7 linked regions of the Homo sapiens genome follow. The protein of the gene in region 7 purifies or fractionates together with the protein of the main gene of each other region. This does not show direct contact. Each region holds a gene or a part of one and is shown on either strand. Other genes may lie near its edges. The genes, in order: ALMS1, RIPK4, MYO1B, TMOD2, MCM8, BRIP1 and AVIL.

What was found.
Region 1: the proteins of AVIL (region 7) and ALMS1 purify together in Homo sapiens (affinity purification with mass spectrometry; 2 studies listed by BioGRID and IntAct, with this or other methods). This does not show direct contact.
Region 2: the proteins of AVIL (region 7) and RIPK4 purify together in Homo sapiens (affinity purification with mass spectrometry, with the first as the bait; 2 studies listed by BioGRID). This does not show direct contact.
Region 3: the proteins of AVIL (region 7) and MYO1B purify together in Homo sapiens (affinity purification with mass spectrometry; 2 studies listed by BioGRID and IntAct, with this or other methods). This does not show direct contact.
Region 4: the proteins of AVIL (region 7) and TMOD2 purify together in Homo sapiens (affinity purification with mass spectrometry; 2 studies listed by BioGRID and IntAct, with this or other methods). This does not show direct contact.
Region 5: the proteins of AVIL (region 7) and MCM8 purify together in Homo sapiens (affinity purification with mass spectrometry; one large-scale study listed by BioGRID and IntAct). This does not show direct contact.
Region 6: the proteins of AVIL (region 7) and BRIP1 purify together in Homo sapiens (affinity purification with mass spectrometry; 2 studies listed by BioGRID and IntAct, with this or other methods). This does not show direct contact.

Annotation. Positions count from the first base shown.
Region 1 is NC_000002.12:73,451,247-73,455,538, reverse strand, and holds part of ALMS1 (centrosome-associated protein ALMS1), read right to left. Parts: coding exon 1,472-4,292; intron 378-1,471; coding exon 244-377; intron 1-243. UniProt on the Homo sapiens protein: Involved in PCM1-dependent intracellular transport. Required, directly or indirectly, for the localization of NCAPD2 to the proximal ends of centrioles.
Region 2 is NC_000021.9:41,749,784-41,754,075, forward strand, and holds part of RIPK4 (receptor-interacting serine/threonine-protein kinase 4), read right to left. Parts: intron 1,463-4,292; coding exon 1,314-1,462; intron 1-1,313.
Region 3 is NC_000002.12:191,381,169-191,385,460, reverse strand, and holds part of MYO1B (unconventional myosin-Ib), read right to left. Parts: intron 4,000-4,292; coding exon 3,895-3,999; intron 2,182-3,894; coding exon 2,119-2,181; intron 1-2,118. UniProt on the Homo sapiens protein: Motor protein that may participate in process critical to neuronal development and function such as cell migration, neurite outgrowth and vesicular transport.
Region 4 is NC_000015.10:51,764,665-51,768,956, reverse strand, and holds part of TMOD2 (tropomodulin-2), read right to left. Parts: intron 2,585-4,292; 5' UTR 2,516-2,584; coding exon 2,390-2,515; intron 696-2,389; coding exon 539-695; intron 1-538. UniProt on the Homo sapiens protein: Blocks the elongation and depolymerization of the actin filaments at the pointed end. The Tmod/TM complex contributes to the formation of the short actin protofilament, which in turn defines the geometry of the membrane skeleton.
Region 5 is NC_000020.11:5,970,682-5,974,973, reverse strand, and holds part of MCM8 (DNA helicase MCM8), read right to left. Parts: intron 2,968-4,292; coding exon 2,937-2,967; intron 2,399-2,936; coding exon of another isoform or gene 2,248-2,398; intron 1,919-2,247; coding exon 1,778-1,918; intron 1-1,777. UniProt on the Homo sapiens protein: Component of the MCM8-MCM9 complex, a complex involved in the repair of double-stranded DNA breaks (DBSs) and DNA interstrand cross-links (ICLs) by homologous recombination (HR).
Region 6 is NC_000017.11:61,775,924-61,780,215, forward strand, and holds part of BRIP1 (Fanconi anemia group J protein), read right to left. Parts: intron 2,856-4,292; coding exon of another isoform or gene 2,817-2,855; exon of another isoform or gene 2,323-2,816; intron 2,257-2,322; coding exon of another isoform or gene 2,197-2,256; intron 640-2,196; coding exon 478-639; intron 1-477. UniProt on the Homo sapiens protein: DNA-dependent ATPase and 5'-3' DNA helicase required for the maintenance of chromosomal stability. Acts late in the Fanconi anemia pathway, after FANCD2 ubiquitination.
Region 7 is NC_000012.12:57,808,483-57,812,774, forward strand, and holds part of AVIL (advillin), read right to left. Parts: intron 2,646-4,292; coding exon 2,537-2,645; intron 2,445-2,536; coding exon 2,334-2,444; intron 2,070-2,333; coding exon 1,867-2,069; intron 1,409-1,866; coding exon 1,330-1,408; intron 1,244-1,329; exon of another isoform or gene 1,214-1,243; coding exon 1,115-1,213; exon of another isoform or gene 1,102-1,114; coding exon of another isoform or gene 1,060-1,101; intron 67-1,059; coding exon 1-66.

The sequences.
Region 1 (4,292 bases), on a different chromosome or scaffold from region 7:
CCAGCTACCTGAGAGGCTGAGGTGGGAGGATTCCTTGAGTCTAAGAGTTCAGGGCTGCAGTGACCTGTGATTGCACTGCTGCACTTCAGCCTGGGCAACAGAGCAAGACTGTCTCAAAAACAAAACCAAAAAAGGCTTTAGCCAAATATTATCAGCAACTCAACTGATGCCCAAGTAAGAGATCCTAATTCCATCACCCATTCTTTCATATTTACTTTCTTCATTTCCAGATTTCTTTTATACCTTGGACAAGTCAGTTGTTCTTCCATGACCAAATAACTCTGCCTTGATCTCTTCTACTTTCCTCCTGTCATCTTCATTTAATTCTGAAATGGAGTATCCACAATCATGTGCTAAATTGAACTTCATATTCCAGGCTGGAGAGAAAGCATACACTTGAGATAATACAATGCAAAAGTGATAATTTGTCAACAATTGCAACACAGAAGATCATCAATATATGCAATTTAATACCCACTGCAATGCTTAGTATGTCTTCTTCTCAATTATGACAACCTATTAGAAATTCTTGACAGAGATCCTTTCACTGCAAAGTCTGATTTTCTTAAGTCATGCTCTATAGATAATTCTACAAAAAAGCCACTTTAAATCGGGTAATCAATCATATTTATCTTAATCCTCCTTTTAATCATGAGTTTCTTTACCTCTCCCTTTAGTTCCTGCTACAATTACTCATAATTCCATGACAGCTGATATTTAAAAGTAATAAATACAACTTGGAGGTTTTTTTGTAGAATAAAAATGTGCAGGGAACAGCGTAGGAAGTTAACCTCAAGGGACGATTTCTAGGTAGGCCTAAATTGCTTTTAAATTGCCTCCCAAAATATATTCCCCATATTGTCTTACAGATTTTTGTTTTTAATGGAATTCTATTAGAAATTAATGAGATTTGTAAATATTCTCTTTTAAACCTCTAACCCAAGTTTTAGTATAAAATACATTGATTTTTTTTTCAAATGTCTGAGATCAACACCAAGAGTTCTATTAGAAAAGGGAAAGAGAAAATATATGTAGTTTTAGGACAAAAAGCAATTTAGAGCACAGCAAATTGGAGGCTCTTTCTGCCTTCAGAATAAGGATACTATAATGGGAGGATTAGAGAAACGTGATAGCTTTAGGAGCTCAGGAGCCCAAGCGACCTCTTTACTCTCTGTCATACATCAGAATCTACTTCTCCTAAGAACAAGAACGTAAACTCAGGCTGGTACTATTAATACTGTAACTTAACTACATTATTGGTTAAATAGGCTTTTTATGGATTGTTAGAAGAAATATAGTCATTCTAACAATTCTATTGGAAAATACATTTAGAACTCCAAATATCTAACTTCATTTTTTTTCTTGATCTTGCTTGTATTTTTCATTGGCTAAGCTTCCTCAAAACATAAATATCTAACTTTAAACACATTATTAAACTATAACGTTTATAAGCCTGAAACTTTCTTCTTACCATGTGCTCGTACCCGGCTTTCCTCTTCCTCTGCATTTCTGAGTATTTCTTTAGCATGATTCAGTGAGGATTCACATTGCAGAAGGTTTTTCACATGTGCAGCCAGTGAATCTACACTGCTACCACCACCATCCTCACTCTCTGACACACCCTCTTCCTCCCTGCTATCTGTTATACTTGTCTTGGGTGAAACATATGGAAAGAAGTTTAGAAGAACATCAGAAACTGATTCCAAAGACTCTGGTAAATTACTGTCCCACGAGCAGGAACCATTTCCATCACTGGCATCACTACTTGAATCACTTTTTATGACAGTCATCATAGGGATAATAATTTTATTCCCAATGGTTCCACTACACCCTTCAGGTTCAGACCTCATTACAGATTTGGCTGCTTGATATTGCCTAAGAGTTTCTTCTAATGCCATACTGACTTTGCTCTCTGCTTCCTGTAGAGGACTTCTAACTGTAGTTGAACTAATAAACTCCCAATTTTCAATGCCTCTCCGGCATTTCAAATTCGTCTGTGTGCCAATATCCTTCTGTATGCACCTGCTGCTTGGGCTTTCCTCTGTGAATGGCTGTCTGTGAAGCAAATCACCATTAGATACACCCGTGGAAGAGGGTTCTTTGAAGCAAACCACCTTCTTAGATTGTATAAATGAAATATCACTAATATCTCTGAAACGGGCAAGGGGAGCAGGAAAATTGCATCGTTTCAGTGCCATATTTTCTGCCTCCATCAAAAGTGTCCGAATTTCCTTAAGAGTTTTAGCACTATTTTCTGCATCCTGGATTTCTTCAGAGCCAACATCTCTAAAACCTGCAGATTCTGGTTTATTTATTACAACTCTGTCATCAGCCTGAGAATTTAAAAGCACATTATTTGAGCTAACACTGGAGTCAGAAGAATTCAAATTATCTATTAGCCTTTGGACATGTTCTGAAACAAGCTTGTGATTCTCACCATGTGAGTAAGTACCAGAGGGAACTGTTTGTAATCCGGTAATTTGATCAGCTTGCCCAAGAGCACTTGAGATCTTTAGAGCATCTTCAGTTAGATGTCTATCTGGCAAATCCTTTTGATAGAAAATATCTGGTTTCTCTCGATGTGAAAAGGAACTAGGAAGAGCTGTTGGTAATACTGTTTTCTGGCCAGCTGGTCCAGGAATTGTTGAAACCTTCAGCACATCTTCAGTTACATGACTACCTGGCAATTCCTGTGGACTGAAAATATTCGATTTCTCTCTGTGAAAATAAGAACTAGAGAGAGATACTGGTTTTCCAGTATTCACATCAGTTAGTTCAGGGACAGCTGAAATCTTTAGAATACCTTTACTTTGATCTCTATCTGGCAACTGCTGTTGAAATAAAATATTGGGCTTTACTGTTTGAGAATAGGAACTATGAAAAGCTGTCTGGGATGGAGTCTTCTGGTCATTTGGTCCAATCACAGTTGAAATCTTGGGCTTCTCTATTTGTGAGTAGGAACTAAGGGTAGCTGCTGGAAACTCAGTTTTCTGGTCATCTGGTATATGCACAGTTGAAATCTTGAGTTTCTCTTTATGTGAATGTGAGTAGGAACTAGACAGTCCTATTGGTATCCCAGTCTTCTGCTCTGCTGGTATAGAAACAGGTGAAACTTTCAGAGCCTCTTCTGTGAGATGACTGTCTGGCAACTCCTGTTGAGAGATAACACTGGGCTTCTCTCTACGTGAGTAGTAACTTAAAGGTACTGTTGGTATCTCAGTCTTCCGGTCACCTTGTCCAGGAACAACAAAAACATTTAAAGCTTCTTCAGTAACATCTGGCAACTCCTGCTGATGAAAAATACTGGCCTTCTCTCTATTTGAGTAGGAACTAGAGGATGCTATTTGTATCCCAGTCTTCTGGTCAGCAGGCCCAGGAACCCCTATTGCTTTCAAAGTTACTTCAGTAAGATCTGGCAACTCCTGCTCATAAGAAATGACAGAGTGCTCTCTCTGTGGGTAGGAATTAGAGGGCAGGATGTTTATTCCAGTCTTCTGGTCAGCTGGTCCAGGAACTCTTAAAATTTTCAAACCTGCTTCAGTAAAATGCGGCAACTCTCGCTGGTAGGAAACAATGGGCTTCTCTCTGTGTGAGTAGGAAGTAGAGGTTACTGTTGATACCCCAGTCTTCTGGTCAGCTGGTCCAGGAACATTTGAAACTTTCAGAGCCTCTTCAGTTAGATGACTATCTGGCAACTCTTGCTGGTAAGAAATATTAGGCTTCTCTGTATGTGAATAGAAAGAGGAAGTTACAGTAGATAACCCAGTCTTCTGGTCAGCTGGTTGAGGAACAGCTGAAACTTTCAGAGCTTCTTGAGTTAGCTCACTGTCTGGCAGGGCCTGTTGGTAGAAGACAATGGGCTTCTCTCTATATGAGTATAAACTAGAGGATACTGATGGTGTCTCAGTCTTCTGGGCATCTGGTCCAGGAACAGGTGGAACTTTCAGAGCTTCTTCAGGTAAATGACTGTCTGATAGGGTCTGCTGGTAGAAAATGACAGGCTTCCCCCTATTTGAGTAGCTAGTAGAATGTACTGGTAATGTCTCAGTCTTCTGGTCAGCTGGTCCAGGAGCAGCTGAAACTTTCACAACCTCTTTATTTAGAGGACTGTCTAGCAGAGCCTGCCGGTAGAAAGTAATGGGCTTCTCTCCAAGTGCACTGGAACCTAAAGGTCCTGCTGGTATGTCAGTCTTTTTTTCAGTAGGTCCAGAAACAATGGAAACTTTCAGAGCCTCTTCAGGTAGATGACCATCTGGAAAGGCCTGTTTGTAGTTAACAATCGGCTTCTCTCC
Region 2 (4,292 bases), on a different chromosome or scaffold from region 7:
CGCCCCAAAGCCTTTTTCGGGGGCTGCTTAGAAATATATAGATAATATGAGGGATACGTTCATGTACATTACTCTGGATACACCAAAAAAAGTGCCCAAATTGATTAAAAAAAAAAAAAAAAAAAAGAAAAGAAAAACAGAAGTCCGAAAACTGAGCCTCCAAGGAGCACTGAGTTGGTGAGGGCTGTTTATAGACAACGAATTCACCATCGAAAATTAGTTCAAACGGCAGGTTCAAAAGCTGGAACTCCAAACTCTAAAATAAATGGAGAGGATCTCAATCTCCCCAAACTCTACAAGCTGTGACTAGTCTCCAAAGTGACACTTCCAGGCAACTCTCAGCTTAAAGCCCCAGCTAAGCACATGCACAATGGCCACTGTCAAACCAGTCAGCCTGGGCTGCTGGCGGCGGCAGTGACCAAAAGGCAGAGCTCACATGCGGGGTCCGAGTCACAGTGCTGCTGGATAACAGCCACAATGGGAGGCTTAGTGCCTGCTCACACGCTCCCACCCACTTTTCTTCTCCAAGAAGTCTGTGTGATTAAGACCTTTACAATTTGAAAAAGGAAGGGACTAGGTGACTTGGGGATTGATCTCTGACCAACAAAGGTTAAGTGCCATGAAGAAGATGAGCTGCTCGCCTCACAAAATCAGAGTGAATTTCGGAAAGTACAAACACACATGCGTACAGACCACTGAAAGCAGCAGGTTCTTCCAACAGACAAGCCATAAAGCCCACGGGTCATGAAATCACCAAGGCTCTGACAGGGCAGGGCTGTCAGCCTGGCCCAAATGTGGACCTGGGAACACCCTTCCTCCTTGGCTAGCAACACTCACAGCAAAGAAATCCCTGAACTCTACAAGCACCCACCCCTTCTATGTGGACTTAGCCCCCTTTCTGTTTGTTTGTTTTTTAGACAGGGTCGCGCTCTGTTGCCCAGGCTGGAATGCAGTGGTGCAATCATGACTTACTGCAATCTCCACCTCCCGGGCTCAAGCAATCCCCCAACCTCAGTCCCGAGTAGCTGGGACTACAGGTGCACGCCACCAAGCTGGGCTAATTTTTGTATTTTTTGTAGAGATGAGGTTTCACCATGTTGCCCAGGCTGGTCTCAAACTCCTGGGCTCAAGTAATCCTCCTGCCTCGGCCTCCCGCAGTGCTGGGATTACAGGCGTGAGTCACCGCGCCTGGCCCGAGCCCCATTTCTGACTGGCAGCAAGAGGCCTTTCTGAAAGCTGCAGCTCAGGGCATGAAGCATTGAGGTTGAGAGCCCCTGGCACCCACAGGGGATGGGGGGCGGCATGTCACACACCTGTATACATCGTGCTTGGTGTCGAAGAGCCGGCTCTTCTCCCTGATGCGCTCTGGAGGGAGGTAGGCGATTGTGCCAAACAGGCCATCCATGCTGAGGTCATGCGAGTGGGACAGCCCGTTGCACTTGGCCAGACCAAAATCAGAAATCTGCAACACAGCCATCAGAGCGGGGCTCATTAGCCTGCAACAGTGATATTTTATGATGCTTTATCAAAAGCTCCCTTCTGCAATCTCAGAGGGTGGGTGAGAGCTTTCCAGGAGCCCCTAAGAGCCGTGTCTGTGCCTCTCCAGGTAGCCCTGCCCCAGGCAGGGAGGGAGACAGATTCTGGGGCAGAAGCAAGCCTGGAGGCATTAGGAGCAGCACATTTGACGGGCAGGTGAAAGAATCGTACTGTAAGGAAGGAGTTATCCGGGACAGAACTGCAGAAGAATTAGAATCCACCTTCTGTAAAGCATCATGTTTGCCATGGTGGTTGAGAGCCGGCTGAGCCGGCATAAAGGGAAAAAAACAAGCCTTCGAGGGTTCAGGTAAAGAGAGACACATGTGAAGACCAGGTCTGCTCCTAGAGAAGTCGGGGAGCAGGTTATGCAACCTGCCAGCTGGGGAGGCTGGCGGGCAAGTGGCTGCAAGTCCTTTAAAGGGAAACACAGAAACACACCTTCAGAAGCCCTTTAAACTTTAAAGCAAACAAAACACACGCCTCAGAGCCCCGTCCATCTGGAGTGTTTTGTGATCAGCAGACACTGGCTGGCTGCTTCAAACACATGTGTTCGAGTGAAGGTCTGATAAACACCTCTGCTGGCAGCGCCCGGGCCCCAAGGAGCACCGGCCACCCAGCTCCTCCAGGAATGCCCTCAACGTCCGCATTCAGGGGAGGCAGGTCTCAGGTCTCCTTCGGGCAAAGGTGACCTTGGAGCTCACTGGGGAGACTTCACAGACCCCCGGTCTGACCTCTCTCGGGGGCATCCCCTTTCCTGCCAGTGTCCTACCCTCTCCAGTGTAACTCAGTCCCCTTTGAAGCTGCTGAAAACCGTATGTGGGATGAAGACACAAGTCATCAGCATTAATGGGACTCTTGATCCAGGGGGAGTGCTGCTCTCAACTTTCCTTCAAGGCATATGGATTTTTTTAAAAACCCTTTTCATTAACTCTTGAGCTCCTCTCAAACACACCCATGGAGTGACAGGAAATGAGGCTGAGTCAGGCCTTAATTCTGGGCTGGCCATGCCCATGTGGTGAGCCAATAGGGCTGCTGTCATCAGCACCAAACAGCTGGGAGAATTTATGACCTGTGACTCGGGCTTCCAGGGATCCTGAGCACATCTGCAGGGAGGTAGGGGGGAAGGCCTGCGAGCAGGGACCGGCCCTCCTTCTCTGCAGCCAGGAGCACCAGGACAAGGCCTCGACTCCAGCGGCTCTCATGTCCTCCCACTTCCATTTCTCCCAGGGCCTTCAGGCCTGCACCGCCCTTGAGAGCCACACTCTGCACTCCAGGGAAAGCGCCAGCTCCCCAGAGGAACGCCATCACCCGACCCTGCAAACCCCGGCGGCTGCTGGACGCTGGGACACAACAACGGGTCCTAACTCTCCAAATAGCTCCAGAGCACAGGAAGTTTCAGTTCAACAGTCATCAGTGGCTTGAAAGCCTTCAAATTCAGAAATGGGCTGAACAATGAGAACACATGGACAGAGGGAGGGGAACATCACACGCCGGGCCCTGTCGGTGCGTAGGGGAAGAGGGAAGGGAGAGCATTAGGACAAACACCTAATGCATGCGGGTCTTAAAACCTAGGTGATAACCTAGATGGTGGATGGGTGCAGCAAACCACCATGGCACATATAAACCTATGTAACAAACTGGCACATTCTGCACATGTATCCCGGAACTAAAAGTAAAATAAAAAATAATAATAAAAATAAAGAAAGCATCACATACTTTCTAGGCAATTCCTCCTCCCCCTGTATGGTTGAATGTAGGAAAAAAATATCTCCCTCCCACGGTTAGTTAAGGATCAGACTCACTGTTCTAATCTTGCCTGTACAAGTTAGTAGCTCCGTGGCCCTGGACTATTAGCCTCTCTGTGCCTGTTTCCTTTTTTCATAAAAGGAGGCAATAGCAGTACCCATCCTGTAGCTTTGTTGTGAAAATTAAATGACATCTGAGATCATTAAGAAAGAAAAGAAAAGAAAAGAAAAACGACAGGGGTGCAGAGATCTCAGCCTGGTGCTTCCCCAGGCCTGCAGCCTTTTCTCCTCCTGTCTTTGTCAGATAGAGCCAGCCACTCCAAACTATACTTGGTGAAAAGAAAACGAGCAGAAATTCTCTGTAAAACCTCTGGCAACAAAATGCAAGCTCGGAATTGAGAATTCTAGGAGGGTCACTGACCCTCTATGTTCTCCTCCCTCCATGTCTCGGACTCCTGGCCGGCTGCATTTCCCCTCCGCCTTTCCTCATCTTCCCACCCAAGCTGCCCCTCACCCCGTGTCCTCAACAGCGAGCTACTGTGGCATCCACTCTGACCAGCAAATGCTTCAAGAGTTACAAACACTCTCATCAGCACCCGACTCTGCATCTCCAAGAGCTGAGGGCTCACAGCTGCCCCCAAGCACATGGCCCTTCAACTTCAAGGTCCAGCTGTCAAGACTAAGAAAGCAGCCTGCCGGGGTTTTGCTGCCTCTAAAAGAAAGACACAGCAGAACGTGACCCGCGTGTGACCCTTTGAAAAGCGTCTGTTTTGGGCTAACTGGACATATAAATGCAGCCTGAGATTTTAAACCAAGTTATTTCATTTTTAAGTTGAAATTGATTCCAACTAGTATCTTAATATTGGTATTTAGTATATGTAATGTTGAATAATATCAAGCATTAATTTGATACTATTACTTTGTATACTATTTACATTTAACTGCTTCATGAAGTAGACAGTTGCTGTGATATTTCCAGTTTGAATCGAGCCCTGAGCACTGAGGGAGCCC
Region 3 (4,292 bases), on a different chromosome or scaffold from region 7:
CCATTATTTGATTCACTCCTAAGAAGGAAACTCGTTTTCTATGTTTCCAAATTGTTCATGTGTTCAAAATAAAGTTTATTTCCTAGAAAAAAATGCTGTGATTTGAGATGCTGCTTTTAACAATCACTGCAATCAAACTGATTTCAAGAATATCTGTTTCATATAGATTTAGATTTTAGAAATTCATGTGGAATTTCTAAATGGATGTTAAACATAAGTGAAAATTTATTTGTTGCATATCTAGACCCTGTGGTCATTTTTATTCCAAGAGTAGTCAGCCCTAAACTGAATCAGAAGTCAGGAAGCTTCTACTTTGCTAAATAAAGACTGCTACTCCATGGACTGCCCCTATGGGGTCATAAGTCTTAATTCCAAAAACAATCCACTCCACTGACCATCAACCCCACCTACTTCCACCCAGGCAAAGTCCTCTGTTCCTCTCCCCTTCTGCTAACAAGGCCACGACATCCTCTGACCAGCATTTATTCATTCCACACAAAACCCTGGGGAAGCGTGGACTCTCAGGAATCAAGTGTGTTCATAACATCCCCAGAACAAACATTATTGTTTAATGATGCTGGAAGGAAACATTTCCTTTATATACCCAGGTTCCTATGTGAACATGAGCTTCTTCAATCATATAGCAAGGGGATTTTTGGCTGAGATAATCTAGTTAAATTAAGTGTATTACCACTGTTCTTTTTCTCCTCTTCTTAAAAGAGAATAATTAAATGCAAGGTTATATTTATCAAAGAAAACATACTAATCAGAAATTCTGAAAATTAAGATTCCCATAGCAAATTACCTCCTTCACAAAATGTACCAGGAAAATTTTCAGGAAATTCACTTTTCAGAGCCAAAATCAGAGATCTGAATTGCTTATGTGGAATATTAGTGTTCCCATTCAATATTGTTCAGATTTTTTGAAACACAGTTTATTTCTTATTGAAAAATAGTGATGCCTTAGAATATTGTTTAATTTAATCAGAGAAACAACTTTTAGGAATATCTTGAATACTGAGGAAAAAAAATACTGGCTAATTACATATTTCCCAAAAAGCTTTGTAAAAGATGAGTAGAAAATGATTTAATATTCATTCAGAGCATGTGACTGTATTCCTGAAACACAGCACTCATCTCACTAAACTGGTCTTGCTAAAAAGACTGCAGGATAATAAGGCTTATACACTGTTTCAAATTACTTATTCAAAGTCAGGTATTAGTAATCCTAAGCATAAATTAGTTTCCTGTTTTCCACACACAAAATCAGTCTTCCTACATTTAATTCATTTACAATAAACTACGGAATATGATCTAAAAACAAAAATCTTGGACTCAGAAAGCTTACTCGAAATTATCCAATAATTTTTCACACTTTAAGCCTTTTTGCATATGCACATACTTGGGTCATCCGAAAAATTCCAGGTCCCTGGCCACCTGCAGTCACACATGCAATGCCCTCTGCATGTATGATCTGAATCAATGCTACAGCTGCACTTAAGCCACTTCTGGGGTCCCACTTAATTCAGCTCCAGAGGTTGTCCCTTTATGTCACTTAAACTTAATATAATACCCGGTGAATAGTATGTTAAGAGGTCATTAGAGTTTTGGGAATGAAATGGATATTTTGATTTGGCAAAAAACTGGATGGCTGCTCAGAGCCTACTCTGATCAGTACTCACATGCCCAGGAGTCATGGAATAGACCTGGGCTCCAACCATACAAGAAAGGCTGGTACCTTTAAGGCCTGGTGTCTGAAGGTCATAAAAGGGTGTTGTGATATGGCCACTGGGGATCCTGGCTAAGTATCAAAACATCCAGCTGTCTATGTATGTGTTCAAGAACTGTGTATGATCTCTTAGGGCTACAATAAAATCTCTAGAACTCTGCAGTTCCTTAACATATATATATATGTGTGTGTGTGTGTGTGTGTGTGTGTGTGTGTACGTGTATATATATATATATACACATATATATGTGTGTGTGTATATATATATATATATATATATATAAAAAACAGTGAAAATACTAATGCTTAACATTGAGGCACTGAGAACATTTATAAGGGTGAATTATAGGACTAAAACATTCTTTAGAAAACTGTACCTAAGTACTCACATTTTCTATTAGGTCACAAATGATAGCATTATTGAAGTAGTCAATGTGAGTCCATTCTATATCCTAAAAGACAAAACAGAACAAAATCCAATGACACAAGATGAAGCCACGACACTACCATCCATAAAACAGACTTTGACCATCTTATCATATTTCCCTTCCTCTCTGAATTTATTTTCTTTATAGAATGGGTACTGCAAATGTCACAGGCAGTTCCCAAAACTTTCTCAATGCAGCTGCCTACCACTGACATAATCTGATTGAAGCAAACACCCTTGACCTGTTCTGAGACTGCCTTCCATTCCACTCTCCCATCTGCAGCAATTTCCCATGCACTTCACTGGCCCTGGGCCAAATATTTACTCAACAGGCCCTTGGGTCAATATTACGTTGTGTATGTTTACAATGTTTATAAGGAAATAAGTTAGAACTTGATCCCAAGAATTTAAAGCCTAGATTCTTCTGTTCTGAATCTGTAATCATAAGGAAAAAAATTAATTTTAGAGTCAATCTTGTGTTGTAGGGAAGTTAACTCTTTCAAGTGTTAAAAAAAACAGGCCAGCGCTACCACAAAGTATTTTCAACATAAGGAAAGACATGAAAATCTATCCACTGGTTCTAACACTGGCTACAAAGCCAAATCCATAAAGCCAAATGTAATCTTTCTGTGTCTACTTAACATTCTGTCCATAAATGTAAACATTTATTTGTCTTCTATTCATTACAGCAAGCTAGCAATCTTCCTATATATTCTTAGAAGTGTTTTAAACAATCTGTATAAACTGTTTTAAGTTACCCATCAAAGTTTGGGCATTCTCTTCATGATGAGAAGACAGGAAAAGAATGAATCGTGCTTTTAGAATATTTATGTTACTAAAAGGTGCCAGACAAGTATAAAACATTTCTGAAGCATAATGAGTACTCTAAAATAAAGATGAAATATTTATGATTTAGCTTTTGAGTAAATGGGTTGTTTTACTAAGCCACTGGGGATAACAATCACATTAGAAAAATCTATATGGAAAGAAAGATAAAAGAGAATTCAGTGTCCTTAATGGCTTAAAATGATACTAAGAAAATAAAGGAAAACAGGTAATATCATTACTAAAATATTAAGGCAAATAAACAAAAAAGGAAATAAAAATATAAACATAACAATTCCTTTTTATTTTTTGAAATAACTAATTTTACACTTGAAAAAAGACTGGCTATTTTAAAAAATAAAAGGGTGAAAAGCAAATATATATTTTTAAATTAATGATGAAAAGACTCTGCAAACACTACTTCTGGTTATTTTAAGATTATATTAAATGAGATAATCTATACATAGCACTTAATATAATACCTGCTATGTAGTAAGGACTCAGTAACTGTTACCTATTTTTACTATAAATTTGAATACTCAATACTTTTTGATATTGAACAAAGTCTCAAAATATTTTCAAATCTACTTACAGTGATGCTGACTTTTTTGGTATACAGTTCTCTAAGTTTTGGCAAATGTATAATGTCAAGCAACCACCACCATTATCAGTCCCCAAAATTCTCTTTGCAGCCACAACCCTCTCACAACTCCTATCTCCTGGCAATCCCTGACTCTATAGCTTCTTATAGGTAATCAGTCTCTATAGCTTTGCCTCTTCTAGAATGACAGATGGAATCATACAGTATGTAGCCTTTTGAATATGGCTTCTTGTTTAGGCTATCTTCTGAATTAGAATTTATATTACGAGTAAAAAAGGACCAACACTTTTAAAAATAGCATTTCAACATTACCTCCCGTATATACTCCTCCTGCTCTTCTTTAAGAGTAAGTTCAATGAAGATTTGTTGCAGCTTTTCGTTACAATAATTAATAATGAACTGCTCAAAGCTGTTGTCCTGTATGGAGAAAATGAAAAACAGCTTTATAAACCATGCCACTAGCTCTCTCAAAACAATGACACTCAGACATCTCAATCCATGAGAAATGCCACACATGATCTCTCAGATTTAACTGTGGCCCAGCACACGGCTCCTAGGACAGACGCTTGCCCATTGCAGGCACTCGAGGAGTGGGTCATGAGTAAGTGAATGAATGAAGTATACACAAATGATGCAATATTTGAAGGATGAAGACTTTTAGTTGACAGAGAAGCACCCCAAACAGAAAAGCTAGAAACAATCTCACTTCC
Region 4 (4,292 bases), on a different chromosome or scaffold from region 7:
TATGGGTTTGGCCCAATGTAGAATGACATATGTCTAGCTAGCAGCCATGATTCTTTTTAACACCGACTCCAGTTCATGGGCTTATTTCCCATTTCCGGGACAGTTCCCTTGCTTGACCCTCCACGACAATAAAATAAATACTGAATCCAGTTCATGGGCTTATTTCCCATTTCCGGGACAGTTCCCTTGCTTGACCCTCCACGACAATAAAATAAATACTGAATCTAGTTCATGGGCTTATTTCCCATTTCCCAGACAGTTCCCTTGCTTGACCCTCCACGACAATAAAATAAATACTGAATCCAGTTCATGGGCTTATTTCCCATTTCCCGGACAGTTCCCTTGCTTGACCCTCCACGACAATAAAATAAATACTGAATCCAATTCATGGGCTTATTTCCCATGTCTGGGACAGTTCCCTTGCTTGATCCTCCACGACAATAAAATAAAAAGAGGTAATCTTAATTAAGAGTGCCTCCGTTCCAAAAAAAAAAAAGAGAGAACCTCTGTTCCAAGATGCTCTGCCTGTGGTCCTTACCTTTCTTTTCTCCAGTGAAGGGCACAAAGTCCTCTCTGTCTTTCTGTTCCAAAGCCTCCTTCTCCAGGTACATGAGGAGGTGCTCGCGGTCAAAGGGGCCGGTGGCTGCCTTCTGTGTCTGGTCTTTCTGTCGAAATCCAGCTGGCAGCATGGCACTCTGACAAGAAAGAGGTGTGAGCAGGAAGGAAGATGTCTGCCGGCCTGTACTTTGCTACTTCCTCTTCCACCCCCACTCACTATGTGCTGGGGAAGCAGGAAGGATACCTACGCAGAATGTGCGTGTGAGCTGAGGGCTGGGGGCTCTGGGACGCCTCTGAGGCCCTATTTGTTATAATGTTCAGTGCTGAGAGGGGGCTCCCAATGAGCTCAAGCAGCGCATAGATGGCTAGAGCAGCCTCTGAGTTTCTGAAGCTGCCTCCTAAAACATGGAGGCAAAAGACCTCTTTCCTTGTAGATCATGCTTAGGTTTGGCTAGGGCTGCACCCAAGGTGCTCCCAGGCAGAAACATGAGACTCTAACAAGGAGCTGACATGGGGAACCCCTCTCCTGCAGAAGCAGTAAAGCTGATAAGTAAACACTATGATGATGTTAATGCCTGCTTGATAAAGCTTTCAGATTCCTTCCTTAATTTAAAAAAACAACAACAGAATATCTGTATTTTTAAAAGTAAATACCATATCCAAAGTATCTGACATATCAGAATACCATATACATAATTTTGTTTTAGTTATATTTTTATTTATGGTAAAATCACTATTTTGGATGGCTCCGATTTTTTTTTTTTAACCGTAATTGACTTTTTATTTAAAAAATTACACGGAGCAATTTCCAGCATATCTTTTTTTATAAAAGTACTGCTAATTCTAAGTTTAAGATCATACCAGCAGGTCTGAAGAAAGTGCTTGCTAATCAAACAATATAACAAGCGACTTAGCTTTTCAAGAACTTATAAAAACATTAGAAACTCCATTGAAATGAACTTGGTATCATGATTATAGTCAGTCTAATCTATTCTTTGTTATAAGTTCATCAAAGAGTTCACATTATTTGTGCATTTGAAAGAAATGAGATATTTTTAAAAATCTGCGTTTGGGGCCGGGTGTGGTGGCTTAGGCCTATAATCCCAGTACTTTGGGAGGCTGAGGTGGGCAGATCACCTGAGGTCAGGAATTCGAGACCAACATGGCCAACCTGGCGAAACCCCGTCTCTACTAAAAATATAAAAATCAGCCAGGCATGGTGGCATGTGTCTATAATTTCAGCTACCTGGGAGGCTGAGGTAGGAGAATCGCTTGAATCTGGGAGGCAGAGGTTGCAGTGAGCCGAGATCTTGCCACGGCACTCCAGCCTGGGTGACAGAGTGAGACTGTCTCAAAAAAAAAAAAAATTCTGCATTTGGGCCTAAAAACCTGGTTTAAATACCATCTCTGACACTTACCAGTGTGGAATCTTATATAAATTACCTCTCCATGTCTAGGGGTTAATAAAGTTTACCTCAAGGGCTTCTGTGCCCAGAGAAATATATGACTCAGAAAAAACTCAGTAAGATTTGCTCTCTTTTCCTCTTTCCTTCTTTTTCCCCTAAACAAGACTAGTCCTTTCTCAACCAACGGAAAATATTTCCCCCCATTTACATTGGGCTGGTTTTTGAGAAATACATTTGCTGTATCACACTGTAGTGGCTATGAGGTTCTCTATGAATTTGTAAACACAGGTGACCCAGAACCAATCAGAGGAAGAAAAGAAAATGTGCATTCCGAGCTAAGGGATTTCTACCATTGTTTAAGGACCAAGCCATGCCATTTATCCATACTATCATTAACCACTCTGCTTCAGTTCCATGTCACTAACCTCAGGATCTAGGTCATCTAGAACATTTTCCAACTGTTTCAGTTCCTCTTCTGAGAGTTTGCCAAGAAGCTCATCTTCATCAATGTTCTTGTATTTCTCCAGCTCTTTTTGAAAGGGGAGTGCCATGGCTTCTTATAAGCCTTTCTCATGGGCCATGCACATTTAAATGGTCCAGTTTCCTGAGACTTCAGAATACTGTTAATAAAAAAGAAACACAATAAAAAAGAATCTCCGTTCTGTAAACAGGACTTATTAACAGGAGACAGAAGTATGCCTCCAATGGAGCCTACTGTATTGAATGAATAATTCAACAAAAAGGTAATATTCCCTTCATTTGCAGAGCAACCTGACAGCTTACAAAGTGTTTTCACATATTTCACTTATTTTGATCTTTACAACAATCCTGTGAGGAAGCCCGTGACGATATTATCATTCCCATTTTATAGATGACAATTCTGAGGTGAAAGTGGCCTAGTGCCTTGCTCGAGGTCACAGAGCTGGGATGCGTGAGCCCCGCCTTCTGATTCCCAGCATAGTGGGTGCTTTTCCCTTATACTACTCTGCCTTCCCTGGCTCTCCATAGAAAAACAGGGGAGAACAATGCACTAATTGTAAGGCAGTTGTAAGAAGCATACTTGTGTCTTTTCAGGGAGAGAGTGATGTGAAGAATACAAAATGGGATTCATTCAGGAACGAGAGTTTGGAACGTCTATGTGAGAAAGCATTGTCCAGTAACTCCCCTGCAATTAAACTAAGTGCGATTCTAAAATCCTGGCCACATGATCACTCTCTCTATTTTTCTCCTTGCTTTGTTTTCCATTCTATTTCTAGTCCCATTTCCTTTTTGTTCTACGTATTCATTCTTTATACCCTCAGACCGTTCTTCTCTCGACCCTTATTTTTTATACCACCTCACTTCTAAATATTCACCCAAAATGCAATTTTTACTCAATCCCTTTCTCCTTGCAGAGGATTCTACAGATCTTCCTTAGAAAGATAATACTCATTCAGGAAACAGTAATGTACTTCACTGACTGTGTTTCTCCTTAGGAGGTATTACCACCAATCACATCTTTCAGGCCAATAAATATTTGTTATATACCTACTATTTGCCAGGCATAGTTCTAGCAAACAGAAATACAAAGATAAACAAGATATGCCACCTTTCCCCAAGAAGATCACAGCTTAGTGAGACAGGCACACAAATAGCAATAATGTCATAAGTATTAGACGTAACGTATAAAGTAGGTTTAAAAACACATGAGGAGGCCAGGAACGTTGGCTCACGCCTGTAATCCCAGCACTTTGGAAGGCCAAGGCAGGTGGATCACCTGAGGTCAGGAGTTTGAGACCAGCCTGACCAATATGGTGAAACCCCATCTCTACTAAAAATACAAAAATTAGCTGGGTGTGGTGGCATGTGCCTGTAGTCCCAGCTAGTCGGGAGGCTGAGGCAGGAGAATTGCTTGAACCCGGGAGGCAGAGGTTGCAGTGCTGAGATGGCATCACTGCACTCCAGCCTGGGTGACAGAGTGAGACTCTCTCAAAAAAAAAATTATATTTATCAAAATGCCCCCTCTCCCCAAGATCACAGCTTAGTGAGACTCTCACACAAACAGCAATAATGCCGTAAGTATTAGACATAATGTAAAAAGTAGGTTTGAAAACACATGGGGAAATAATCACTGAGTAAGTGGGGGAAGTTTGAGGGGAAACTGTGAAAAAGAGGCTGTGTTTGAACATTGAAGGAGGAGGTCATAAGGTGGACATGAATGGGCAAGTGTCATTCTAGGAAAAGGGAACAGCACAAAGGGGTACAGGATAAGACAGTAAATGATATGCTGGTAGAGCAGGCGGCATGGCTACAGAGGGGGATTCATGGAGGAAGGGAGAGGAAAGAACT
Region 5 (4,292 bases), on a different chromosome or scaffold from region 7:
TGTTCATGATGAGCTTTGTTTCACCTGTAAGGGGTACCCTGAGCCTCTGTTGTCAGGCTACATTGTAGCGAGGTCTCAGAACAGAATTTATTTTTTAAAAAGTAGCCCCAGATGGCCAAAAGGAACCAAACATAGATGAAATATCTATGGAATTATAATAATATCTAGGAATTAAAATGACTGGTTTAACACTCAACCACAGGCAATAAAGGATGACTCAGATATGAAGGACAGTGGGTTTATAATGTAATGACAAGATCAAAGCAGTTCTCAAGGCTGGCTGCATATTAGAATCATCTGTGGACTGTTGTACACATATAGACACTAGGACCCTAACTTAGAAACTCTTAACTCAATTGGCTTGCAGTGGGCTATGGTATTTTCAAAGAGCTCCAAAAGTAATTAAGATGTGCAGCCAGGATCCCAATCCTTGGAAAAAGATTTAGGAGCCATACTACTACAACTTACTAAAGGGCCAGAGAAGCCCTGGTCAATTTTCCACATCGAGTGAAGAAGGGGGCCACAGGCATTTTTAGAAAGCACAGTGGCCAAGCACAGTGGTTCACACCTTTAATCCCAGCACTTTGGAAGGCTAAGGCAGGTGGATCTGCTTGAGCCCAGGAGTTCGAGACCAGCCTGGGCAACATGGCAAAACCCCATCTCTACAAAAAAAGCATTAGCCAGGCATGGTGGCACATGTCTATAGTCCCAGCTACTTGAGAGGCTGAGTTGGAAGAATTGCCTGAGCCCAAGGTGGAAGCTGCAGTAAGCCAAAGTTGCGCCACTGTACTTCAGTCTGGGCAAAAGAGGAAGACCTTGTCTCAAAAAAATAAAGTAGAAAGCACATTACGGCTGGCTTACCGGTTGTCACTTTAAGGAAACTACAAGCATACCAATAAGCAGCACCTTCTAAAGCCATCATAAAACCCAGGAAAGGAAAACCACTAGGCTCTGACTGGCAGAGGCAGAATTTTCTTGGGGATCTACAAATGACTGATCACAGCAGTTGCCTTGCTTTGGACAGAGCGTGGTGGCTCACACCGGTAATCCCAGCACTTTGGGAGGTTAAGGTGGGTGGATCACTTGAGGCCAAGAGTTCAAGACCAGCCTGGCCAACACAGCAAAACCCTGTCTCTACTAAAAATACAAAAATTAGCTGGGCGTGGTGGTGCGCACCTATAATCCCAGCTACTCAGGAGGCTGAGGCACAGGGATTGCTTAAAAGTGGGAGGCAGAGGTTGCAGTGAGCCCAGATCATGCCACTGCACTCCAGCCTGGGCAACAGAGTGTGACTCCGTCTCAAAAAAAAAGGTTGCCTTGATTTGGACTCACAAGCAGTGGAGATATATACAGACAGATCCCACACCTTTAGCAGACTGTTCTTAAAGCCCAATACAGTGTTTATGTACTTGTATGAGGGAGAATAGGTGACCCTGCTTTAACTCCCCTGAACTATTCTGTTCATAGGTGAGGTCACATAACAACTAACAACAACAAAGACTAGCAAAACAATGGTTAGAGAAATGGTTAATATTTCCTAATAGTTGATGTCTCAACAGACCAAGATGTTTGTACAGCCTCTGTAACAGGAGACTGGCTCAATTTAAAAATATGGTCAGATATAAGTTACATATTACTCACACAAATTCCAATTCATTTACGCCACCTAACCATGTCCTCTGGAACACACACACTACATGCTTTGAGAAAATTCACTTGTGAATTATTAACGCATTTTACAAGCAAAAGAACAAACACTAAATGACTGATTGTCTACCTGTAGCATTTGACTTTTTCCTAGGCCTGGATCTCCAACAACAAGGATGTGGGGGTCTCCCCGAATTGGAATTCTGTTTTTGTCATCTGCGTATTTCTGGCTTCCTCCAAAGAGTGCTAATGCCAAACCTGCTTTAACAAGCTCAAGTGCGAAAAAAGAACAAAAAACAGAAGTAAGGAAAACATAAAGGTGACTAGTAAAGGGGGTATTCCTCCTTCTATAATATTAATTTGTTTGGGGATTGTTTTAAAAGCATGATAATTTTTTTCTAAGAAAAGGAAGTCTAAAAACAAACTTCTATCACGTAAATGATTAAAAAGTAAAAACTTGAAAACATATAAAATCAGAGCTATCTTAGAAATTACTAAGAGCTACCTTGCAAGGCATAAATCCATTCCACAAAAACGAGAAATATTTGTTTTTGCTTTAATACTGGCAGTGTCTAGTCACTTTAAAAGCCCATTTCTTACCAAAAGTAGCTGGGTCTGGTGGCGCATGCCTGTAGTCCCAGCTACTCGGCAGGCTGAGGTGGGAGAACTGTTTGAACTTGGGAGGTGGAGGTTGCAGTGAGCTGAGATCGCACCACTGTACTCTAGCCTGGGCGACAGAGCAAGACTCCATCTCAAAAAAATAAATAAATAAAATAAAAGCCCATTCATATTTACTCTAGTTGGTAAAAGTTTTTTCTTAAAAGGAGCTATACGGCTGACACCTATAATCCCAGCACTTTGGAGGCTAAATTGGGTGGATCACTTGAGGCCAGGACTTACAGACCAGCGTGGGCAACATGGCAAAACCCCATCTCTACAAAAAATACAAAAAAATTAGCTGCACATGGTGGTGCATGCCTGTAGTTCCAGCTACTCAGGAGGCTGAGGTCAGGAGGATGACCTGAGCCCCAAAGCTGGAGGTTGCAGTGAGCCATGACTGTGCCATCACACTCTAGCCTGGGTGACAGAGCAAAACCCTGTCTCAAAAAATTAAAAAAATTAAAAAAAAAAAAGCTATAGTTTGCTTGCCTCCCATATCATTAATTTACAAAGCATATTAAGATATAAATAACTGGCCAATAGAAATTTGCTACTTTCTGTAAAGTTTTTATATGTTATTTTTGCTAACCTTATATACTTTTTGAGTAAAGATGAAGTAAAATACTTACTTCATGACCAAAAATGACAGGGCAAAGCGAGCTGAAAAACAGAACACAACTTATAAATTCTAATTTATACTTCATTGATCCATTAGGAGATCTCCTCTACAATTTGTTTAACCTGCTTAATATCAACAAAGACAAATGTAAAAAATTTACATCCCCTCAACTGAAATTTTATTCTTACAGTACATTTCTCAAAGTTCTTGGTTAATCTATAAAGGTTAGAATTTTTTAAAAACTCTGCATAAGGAACAGAGGATACTTGCAAAGCATCTTAAAGTAACTAAATACAATGTTGCTCTTCTTACACAACTAGCCTTAAAATGCGTCACAATCATGGTCTTCCATTTTAGGATACGGGATTATATTGTATTTTATGTGAACAGACATCTTGAGACTGTGCAGCCAAGTCACTGAAAGGAGACTGAGAAGTGAACTCAGTATATAATACTCTAAGATGGGATAAAATTTCATTTTTTTCAGTTCAAGTCAAAAGGTCAAATTAAATAAGAAAATGAGGCCAGGTGCAGTGATTTGTAGAACCAGAAAGTCCAGAAAGGTGGGATAACTCAAAGCATGGGCTTCCAGCCTACAGGTAAATCTAAACATTTTCTGGTTGACAATTGGTTGAGTTTGTCTAAAGACCTGGGATCAATAGAAAGGAATGTTTGGGATGCAAGAGGTTGTAGAGACCAAAGTTTTATCATGCAGATGAAGCTTTGGCTAACAGGTTTCAGAGAGAACAGGCTGTAAAATGTTTCTTATTAGACTTAAAATCTGTGTTGATGTTAATGCCAGAGAGGTATAATAAGGCATGTCTGACCCCCACTTCCCTTTGTGGCCTGAATCAGTCTTTCAGGTTAAATCTTAAGAGCCCTGGCTGAGAAGGAAGTCTGTTTAAATGGGTGGGGGGCCTTGGAATTTTATTTTTGGTTTACAGGTTCATGCCTGTAATCCCAGCAAGCACTCTGGGAGGCCAAGGTGGAAGAACTGCTTCAGCCCAAAAGTTCAAAACTAGCCTGTGCAACAAAGTGAGACCCCGATATCTATAAAAAAAAAAATTAAAAATTAGCCAGCCATGGTGGCATACACCTTTAGTCCTAGCTACTTGTGAGGCTGAGGTGGGAGAATAACTTAAGGCCAGGAGTTTGAAGCTACAGTGAGCTCTGATTGTGCCACGGCAATCCAGCCTGGGCAACACAGCAAGACCCTGTCTCTAAAAAAAATTAAGAGAAAGAATATAAAACAGTACATTTACATTTGTCAATTTTATAAACAAGGAACAAACAAAAATAGGGTGGGAGAGAAAATCAGGAGTAAAACATGAGTCTTTATTCCCTTTTAATATATGTAAACACAGAA
Region 6 (4,292 bases), on a different chromosome or scaffold from region 7:
CCCACGCTGGAGTGCAGGGGTGCAATCATAGCTCACTGTAACCTCAACCTCCTGGGCTCAAGCAATCCTCCCACCTCAGCCTCGCAGGTAGCTGGGACTATAGGTGTGTGCCACCACACCCAGCTAATTTTTGTATTTTGTAGAGGCAGAGTTTCACCATGTTCTCCAGGCTGGTCTCGAACTCCTGGGCTCAAGTGATCCTCCCAGCTCAGCCTCCCAACCTGCTGGGATTACAAGCATGAGCCACCACGTCCAGCCTTGCTCTTTCAGACTTTTAAGTAAAACAGAGGTAGGACAATCAGGCAGTATCTTAATCAAAAAATAAGTAAAATAATATGTGATGTTTAGAAAACTATAGTTATTACCTTGTTGCCTCTACCCTAGGAAGCTTACTGTGGTAATTTTAAAATTAGCATGCCAATGTTTAAAATGTAAATGATTATTTAAAGGCAAAAGAAACAATAAATATTCCCTTACCTTGTAAGATGGCAAGAAACACAAAATTCCTTGGCTCACAGTCTGGCACACAGATAACAAAAGTGCTCCCACTTCATCTTGGAACTCAAATGTTTCAGTATTCTGGAAGGTAGCACAGAGATTCCGACCCTTGGGGCCTGACCCAATGGTACCAACCCAAACCTAGAATATGAATATGTCATTATTAGAGTTATGCCTGAAAAAGGCATGGAAATTAGTATTTATTTGGAAGTATGTACATAAAAGATCAAGCAACAAGTTTAACAATTTATTTTTAAATTGTCAGGGGGTTTTCTATTACCTTCAATTAACTGTATACAGATTTAATTTATAAATGTTTTGCTTTAGGCAGATCACTAAATTCTCTTAGAGTGAAAATTCTTTGAAAGCAAAACAGGTTGTACCTGTCTCTGTTTACTTAATAGCTTTGCAAAATTTAAGCATGTAACAAATTTTTGTTAGGTGAATAAATGAACAAGTGAAATGATGAATATATACCAATAGCAGAATCAGATAATTCCAAAATACTGGGGATGAAGGCCAGTATAATTTGCCATAGGCAAGTCTCAAAAATGACAGGAACTACTCTTTCAAAAATTCATTGGTGCTCAAAGATCCTTAGTCATAGAAAAAAATCACACCCACCACATCTTACAGTTATTTGCAATTCTATCTCCCTTATATGTAGAGAGAGGGAGAGAGACGAAAATTTTGCAAAATGTTAACAAGTGATGAATCTAGGTGAAGGATATAAAGATATTCACAATATTAATATTATCTTTCCAACTTTTCTGAAATTTCTAATTTTTTGAAATACAGTTGAAAGAATCAATGAATGAATGATCAAAATGTAGCATTGAGTAGAAAAAAACAAACTTTTTCCTTTGCTCTCACACCACAGCAATCAACACAGAAAACTTCTGTGACCAAATGTGTGGGAGGTTTTTTCCACATACCAAGCAATCAATTCTGCAACAGACATCAACTGGGTGTCCTCTAATTCAATTCAATTCTGATACTATCTACTGGGAGATGATAACTTCAGATCCCAGAGGTTGAGGGCTCAGTCCCCAAGACTGCCCCTGATTTCTGTGGCCAGTCACAGTTGTTTTTACTTGCACTTCTGACTGATCAGCTAGAAATCGGGCATCCCACAACCCTCTGCTTGGGTTCAATTAATTTGGTAGAGCTGCTCACAGAACCCAGGGACACATTTACCTACACTTACTGATTTATTAGAAAAAATATTACAAAGGATACAGATAAAGAGATGTATGTGGGAAGGGGCTCAGAGCTTCAATTCCCAGGCACATCACCCTCCAAGTGTTCAGGAACCTCCAAGTGTTCAGCTATCTGGAAGCTCTCTGAACCCTGTCCTTCTAGGTTTTTATGGAGGCTTCATTATGTAGGCATGATTGATTAAACCACTGGCCATTAAGATAAACTTAACCTTTAGCATCATCTCCCCCAAGCCCTCCCCAGAGGTTGAGGAATGGGGGTGAAAATCCCAACTCTCCTATCATGTCTTGGTCTTCCCGGAGGCCAGCCCTGATCCTGATGCTACCTAGGAGCCCCCTACCATTAGTCATCTCATTAGCATACAAAATGTCACTTTGGAGATTCTAAGGATTTTAGGAGTTGTATGCCAGGAAATGGAGTGGAAGACCAAATATATATATTATAAATCACAGGCATATACACACAAGAAACATTATTCACCTTTAAAGAGGAAACTCTGGCACATGCTACAACATAGATGATGAACTTTGAAGACATTATCTGCAACATGGACAAACCTTGAGGACATTACTAAGTAAAATAAGCCAGTCACAAAAACGACAAATATTTTATGATTCCACTTATATGAAGTATTTATAGTAATCAGATTCATAGAAACAGAAAGCAGAATGGTAGTTACCAGGAGCTGAGGAGAGGGGGAGAATAGAGAGCTGTTGTTTAATGGGAACAGAGTTTCAGTTTTTCAAGAGGAGAAAGTCTTGAGATTGGTTGCACAACAACATATACATACTTAATAAGACTGAGCTGTATACTCAAAAATGGTTAAGATGGTAAATTTTATATATATTCTACCACAATTAAAAGTTTTTTAAATTTTAAGTTGAAGGAAAATATTACAGTGTAACAGAATCCAGCTGCACAACTACATTATTATAATTCAGCGACATTATAGGTTAAATGGACTTTTGTGCAGTAGGCTGAGAACATAGAGCCTGTAATAACATTCTTATGAGAAAACGTATGCTGAATTTACCAACTTCCCATATTTATCTGTGTCTCTAAAGAAAGCAACTTGAAAACGTGGAACATGTATTCTTCCTTCACTGCTGTTCATAGTCACATTTCTCAGCAGGAACACTCTGGCATTTGGAAAGCACAATTCTTAGTTACATAGGAGTAGCATTCTAGGTTCCCAACTACCAAATGCCGTAGTTGCTCCCAAGTAATTGTGAGGACCAAAAATGTTCCCACCTATAAACCTGTGTATATAGCTTAATAAAGAGCTAGCATTGTGTTAGGCACACAGGTGATGTTAACTTAACCACTTTAGCATTAACCACAGCTTAACATCACCTGTGTGCCTAACCACTTTAAAATATTTCATAAAAAGAAACCAGAAGGCATAATGAAAAATAACAATCTATACATTTCCACAAAAATTAAAATAACATTTAGTAGCCATCGTTATAAAACATTAAAATCTTAAATCATAGGACTCATAAGAGTACTTTTAACTCATTTCAGATATTCAAACATGCTGAACACTTGCTAAATACCAGCTATTAATCTAGGCACAGAGGAAGAACGTGGATGTAAAAGGAAGAATCAGGATACACTGTAGTCTAATGGAAAAGAGAAGCATAAATAATTATACAAGCTGGGCATGGTAGTACATGCCTGTAGTCCCAGCTACTCAGGAGGCTGAGGCAGGTGGACTGCCTGAGCCTGGGAGTTTGAAGCCAGCCTGGGCAACATAGCAAGCGACCTTGTCTCTAAAAAGATAAAGTCTGGCCAAAATGGCAAAACCCCGTCTCTACTAAAAATACAAAAATGTGCCAGGCATGGTGGCATACACCCATAATCCCAGCTACTCAGAAGGTTGAGGCAGGAGAACCGCTGGAACCCAGGAGGCGAAGGCTGCAGTGAGCCAAGATCGCACCACTGCACTCCAGTCTGGGTGACAGAGCAAAACCTTGTCTCAAAAAATAAAAGTAAAAATAAAAATACAGAGATAAAATAAATAAAATATAAATAGGCTGGGCACAGTGGCTCACGCCTGTAATCCCAACACTTTGGGAGGCTGAGGCAAGTGCATCATTTGAGGGCAGGAGTTCAAGACCAGAATGGACAACATGCTGAAACCCCATCTCTACCAAAAAAATAAAAAATTAGCCAGGCGTGCGGCGCACACCTGTAATCTCAGCAACTTGAGAGGCTGAAGCAGGAGAATTGCTTAAACACGAGTGAGCCAAGATCACACCACTGCACTCCAGCCTGGGCAACAGAGCCAGACTCTGTCTCAAAAATCAATCAATCAATAAATAAAACATAATTATACAATGAGAATTAAAGAAATCAAAATTTTGTTTTCATTACAAAACTAAAACTTACTTAGAAGAAGAAGCTGAAATACAGCCTTTTGCATCCCAAGTGACTGGATTATTTCCTTCTGTTGACACATCATTAAGTAGCTGACAGATTTTCTTTTATTGTAAAACTGGAATGTTGAATTTCCTACCAAGATTTACTTGCTGGCACTTCAGGTATCTTCTAACTTGTTTACATAGTTATATTGA
Region 7 (4,292 bases):
CTCAGCACCATCGTTGACGGTCTCCACATTGGTGCTGCTGGGGTAGCTCTTCATCTTGATGAAGCCCTGCAGAGCCACCCATTCCCAAAGGCAGGTCAGTGGTGGAATACACTGAGTTCTTTGCTTGTCTGGTAATTCACCTCTATGAAGCCACATGATATAAGCGTCTCCCCTCTGGGAGTCAGAGTCAAATTCTAACTCACTTTTGTCTAAGGACCAAGGTACCTGCCTAAAAAAAAAATGACTGAGTGGAACATTTTTGGATCTGTTTATTGGCTTGCGGTGATTATGGTTGTTAATTTTTAGGATGATTATGCTGTGTTCTTTCAGTACTTTTGTCCTTACTGACTTTGCATCACATTTGTTTGCTCATTTATTGCTTCTGGCTTGGTTCATCTGCATGGATCTGCACAAATATAAGCTCCTTGAGGACAGGGCCATTAACCTTGATATGTGATATCCCCTTCAATAATAACAGCCACCTTTTATTCAGCAGGTACTGTGTGCCAAGAACTGTTCTGAGTGCTTTTTTTTTTTTTAGACAGAGTCTCGCTCTCACCTAGGCTGGAGTGCCGTGGCGTGATCTCGGCTCACTGCAGCCTCCCGGGTTCAAGTGATTTTCCTATCTCAGTGCCCTGCCAGGTAGCCTGGACTACCGGCATGCGCCACCATGCCTGGATAATTTTTTTTGTATCTTTAGTAGAGACAGGGTTTCACTATGTTGGCAGGCTGGTCTTGAACTCCTTACCTCAGGTGATCCACCTGCCTCGGCCTCCCAAAGTGCTGGGATTACAGGCGTGAGCCACTGCGCCCGGCCCTGAGTGCTTTACAAATGATATTTAATCCTCACAATAACCCTAGGAGATGGGTATGACCCCCATGTTAGATATGGGGAAACTGAGGCCCACAGGTGTTAAGTATGTCTTCCCCAGAGCACACAGCTGGAAAAGACAAAACCTGGATTTGAATCCCAGTTTGTCTGCCTGACTTTGCAGTCCATGTACGTAAGCACAATGTTATATGCTCAAATACCTAGCATGGCTCTGTGGAGTGACACACCTGAAGTGCTCTTAGCAGAATTATTTGAACAGTATTGCACATCTGTAGCTCCTACCAGCGCTTTAGACATGGCTGCCTGTTTTTCAGCCTTTGTGGCTCCTTTTCCTTTCCACACGTAGATTTTGGTTCCACTTTGGTCCAGGATGTAGCAGTCCTAAAGCAGCCAGAGATAGGTATGGTTGCTCAAGACCAGAAGGAAGATTTTGCACAGGGTCTGCTTCTGAAGCATGTCTGGCTACCCCAAGCTAAGTCCACCCAAACTCTACTTACATCATGGTTCAGTAAGTCCTGGACCAGAGGCCTTGTTGCTACCTCTGTGACTGCCAGCTGCCCAGCTGAATCTGAGATACTGGAGAAGGGGAGAGGTTAGCCTGTGCCTTTTCCTCTATAAAGCATCTTGTAGTCAACTAGATGTTGTTCTGGTTTGGTTTTAGTTTGGAGTTTCTAGGTAGAGTGTGACTGCCTAAGACAGCCATGACTTGAGTGAGGACAGGAATGTGCAGACTCTTTTCTTTGGTGGAGACTTTTGTTCATCTCTCTCCCAAACATTATCCCTTCCACATCCCTGGGCATGTGTAGGCTAGAGTAAAGGAAAGGTCTCCTCAAGAGATCAGGAGAGTTGCTAACAAGAACTGCCTCCTTGAGTGGGGGATCTCCAAGCTTTCTAGGAGCTGCATTTGAAAAGGACTAAGAAGAAAACCAGATGGCTACACCCAAAACAAGGAGCCAAGCAGAGGTGGCTGGTGTTCTAGGGGACACCTTCCCCCCAACCCCAGCTTCCAGCTAAAACCAGGTTGAGCTACTCACTGATACAACATGATAGTTGATTTCTGCTTCTGATCTATGATCTCATCAGGGACTGTAGGCTTGATAATGGAGCGTCGGCCAAGGGTGTCCTGAAGGACCTTCATCAGCTCTGGGCTGGCTGCCTCCTTGTCTCCCTCGATCACTCCTATTTTAGCACGGCCCCCTCGCTCCCTGTCTCGAATATCCTTTGCCAGAAGCATAGCCTGTCAAAGAAGCCCAAGGAAGCCCTCAGCTCCTCTGGGACCCCTTTCTGCCTGATGTCTTTGGGGAGAACAGCCTAGATCCCAGACACAGGAGTTACTTGGATGCTGAGGAGTCCAGGGTGAGTCACAAACTCACACACTTGGCCTGTCTCCAAGACAGATTCTACTCAAAGGCAGGGCTCCACCTTGATTCTTGGGGAAGAGCCAGCATGGAGGGAAGAAGAAAGAGGAACTTGAGAAAGTGCTAAGGCTAGGAAGCCATACCTTCAGGCGCTCCCCACTGTTGCTCTCTGGGCCATTCCATTGGATGATGACTTTCCCAAGGTCCAGCAAGAAGACATCACCTCGGTTGAAACTGTCCCAGCTCATTTCCACCTGTCGATGAGAGGTAAACATTGTTCAGGAGGAATTCTTAGGTGCCAGGTGGAGAAGCCCCGGGCCTGGGGCAGAGAGTGTGCAGGACTAACCTCGGTAGCCCTGATGTTTCTTTTCCCTTTCACATGTAGCAGCCGCTTCACGTCGTAGGTATTGGTCTCCACGTGCTTCATCCCAGAGGCGACACCCCCCTGCTTGTAGCTAAGGGAACATCCATTCAGTTATTTGAGTGCCTGCTATGTGCTAGGTTCTGGGGAGACAGTGGTGAATTACACAGATGCAGCCTCACTCATGTGATGACAGTACATCAGCAAGGTAAATACAGATGGTGGCAGCTGCTGCCCCACAAGTAGACTGGGTGAGTGACTTTCTGGTAGCGAGTTGGGGCAGTCTTCTCTGAAGAAATGACATTTGAACTGAGATACTACAAGGAAAATGAACCAATACCCAGAAGAATAGTGCTCCAGGCACTATAACAGTGTCCAGGAGACATCAGTGACAAAGACCCCTGCACCACAGAGGGCTTGTTTTGTTCCAGGAACTGTCTGAATGCCAGTGTGTTACTGGGAGAGGGATACAAGTTGTGCTGCAGCAGAAGCATTAATGACTCCACGGCCTTAAGACCACCTACCCTAGGAATCAGCTCACCCGCCCTGCACTCAGCCCAGCCCAGCCTCCGAGCCAGGGGTCCTGCACTTTAAGGGAATGCGGAAGGTAGCCCTGGAGCAGAGGGGCTCTGTCCTTGGGTTCCCCAGTGGCTCAGTGTGCTCCTCTGTGCCCAGAAGGGCCTCAGTCAGTGGAGACTGCTGACCTGCAAGAAGCTGATCTTGGCCCAGCCTCACAATTCTCAAGCTCATTGGAATTCCTCTTTTTGTTTTAATATCAGGGGCAAAGTTTTGAGTTAAACTTCTCAGTTGATGGAACATTATCATCAGCCTTCGCTCCCTCTCTAGTGTTATGTGTCTGTGCATTCCCTTTATCTGCCTGTCCTACTCCCATTCCTCTCCCCAATACGCTTCCATTCTAACTGTTGACCTTTTTATTTTCATTCTAGTAAACTGTGTCCCCCACCTTTTTTTTTAAAGACAGGGTCTCACTCTGTCACTCAGGCTAGAGTTCAATAGTGCAATCATGGCTCATTGCAGCCTTGACCTCCCGGGCTCAAGTGATCCTCATCAGGGACTGCAGGCTCGATAATTGAGGGCTCAATACCCTCAGCCCATGGAGTAGCTAGGACTATAGGAGTGCACCGCCATGCCTGGCTAGCTTTTTTACAAAATATTTTTTGTGGAGATGAGGGTCTTACTGTGTTGCCTAGGCTGATCTTGAACTCTTGGGCTCAAGCTATCCTCTTGCCTCAGCCTCCCAAAGTGCTGGGATTACAGGTGTGAGCCACCACGCCCAACCCATCCTGTTGTTTTGTGTGCATGTTTTTGTTTTGTTTTGTTTTGTTTGAGATGGTGTCTTGCTGTGTTGCGGGGCTGGAGGGCAGTGGCATGATCTCAGCTCAGTGCAACCTTCGCCTCCTGGGTTCAAATGATTCTCCTGCCTCAGCCTCCCGAGTAGCTGGGATTACAGGTGTGCACCAGCATGCCCGGCTAATTTTTGTATTATTAGTAGAGACGGGGTTTCACCATGTTGATCAGGCTGGTCTTGAACTCCTGACCTCGTGATCCGCCTGCCTCGGCCTCCCAAAGTGCTGGGATTACAGGCGTAAGCCACCATGCCTGGCCATGCGTGTGCTTTTTAAAACAGAAATTGGCATTCTGTTATATGTCTTAGTCTGTTTCTTACTTTGTGTGCTAAGCACCATGTTTGTGAGCTCTGTCCTTGTGTTAGGTGTGTATC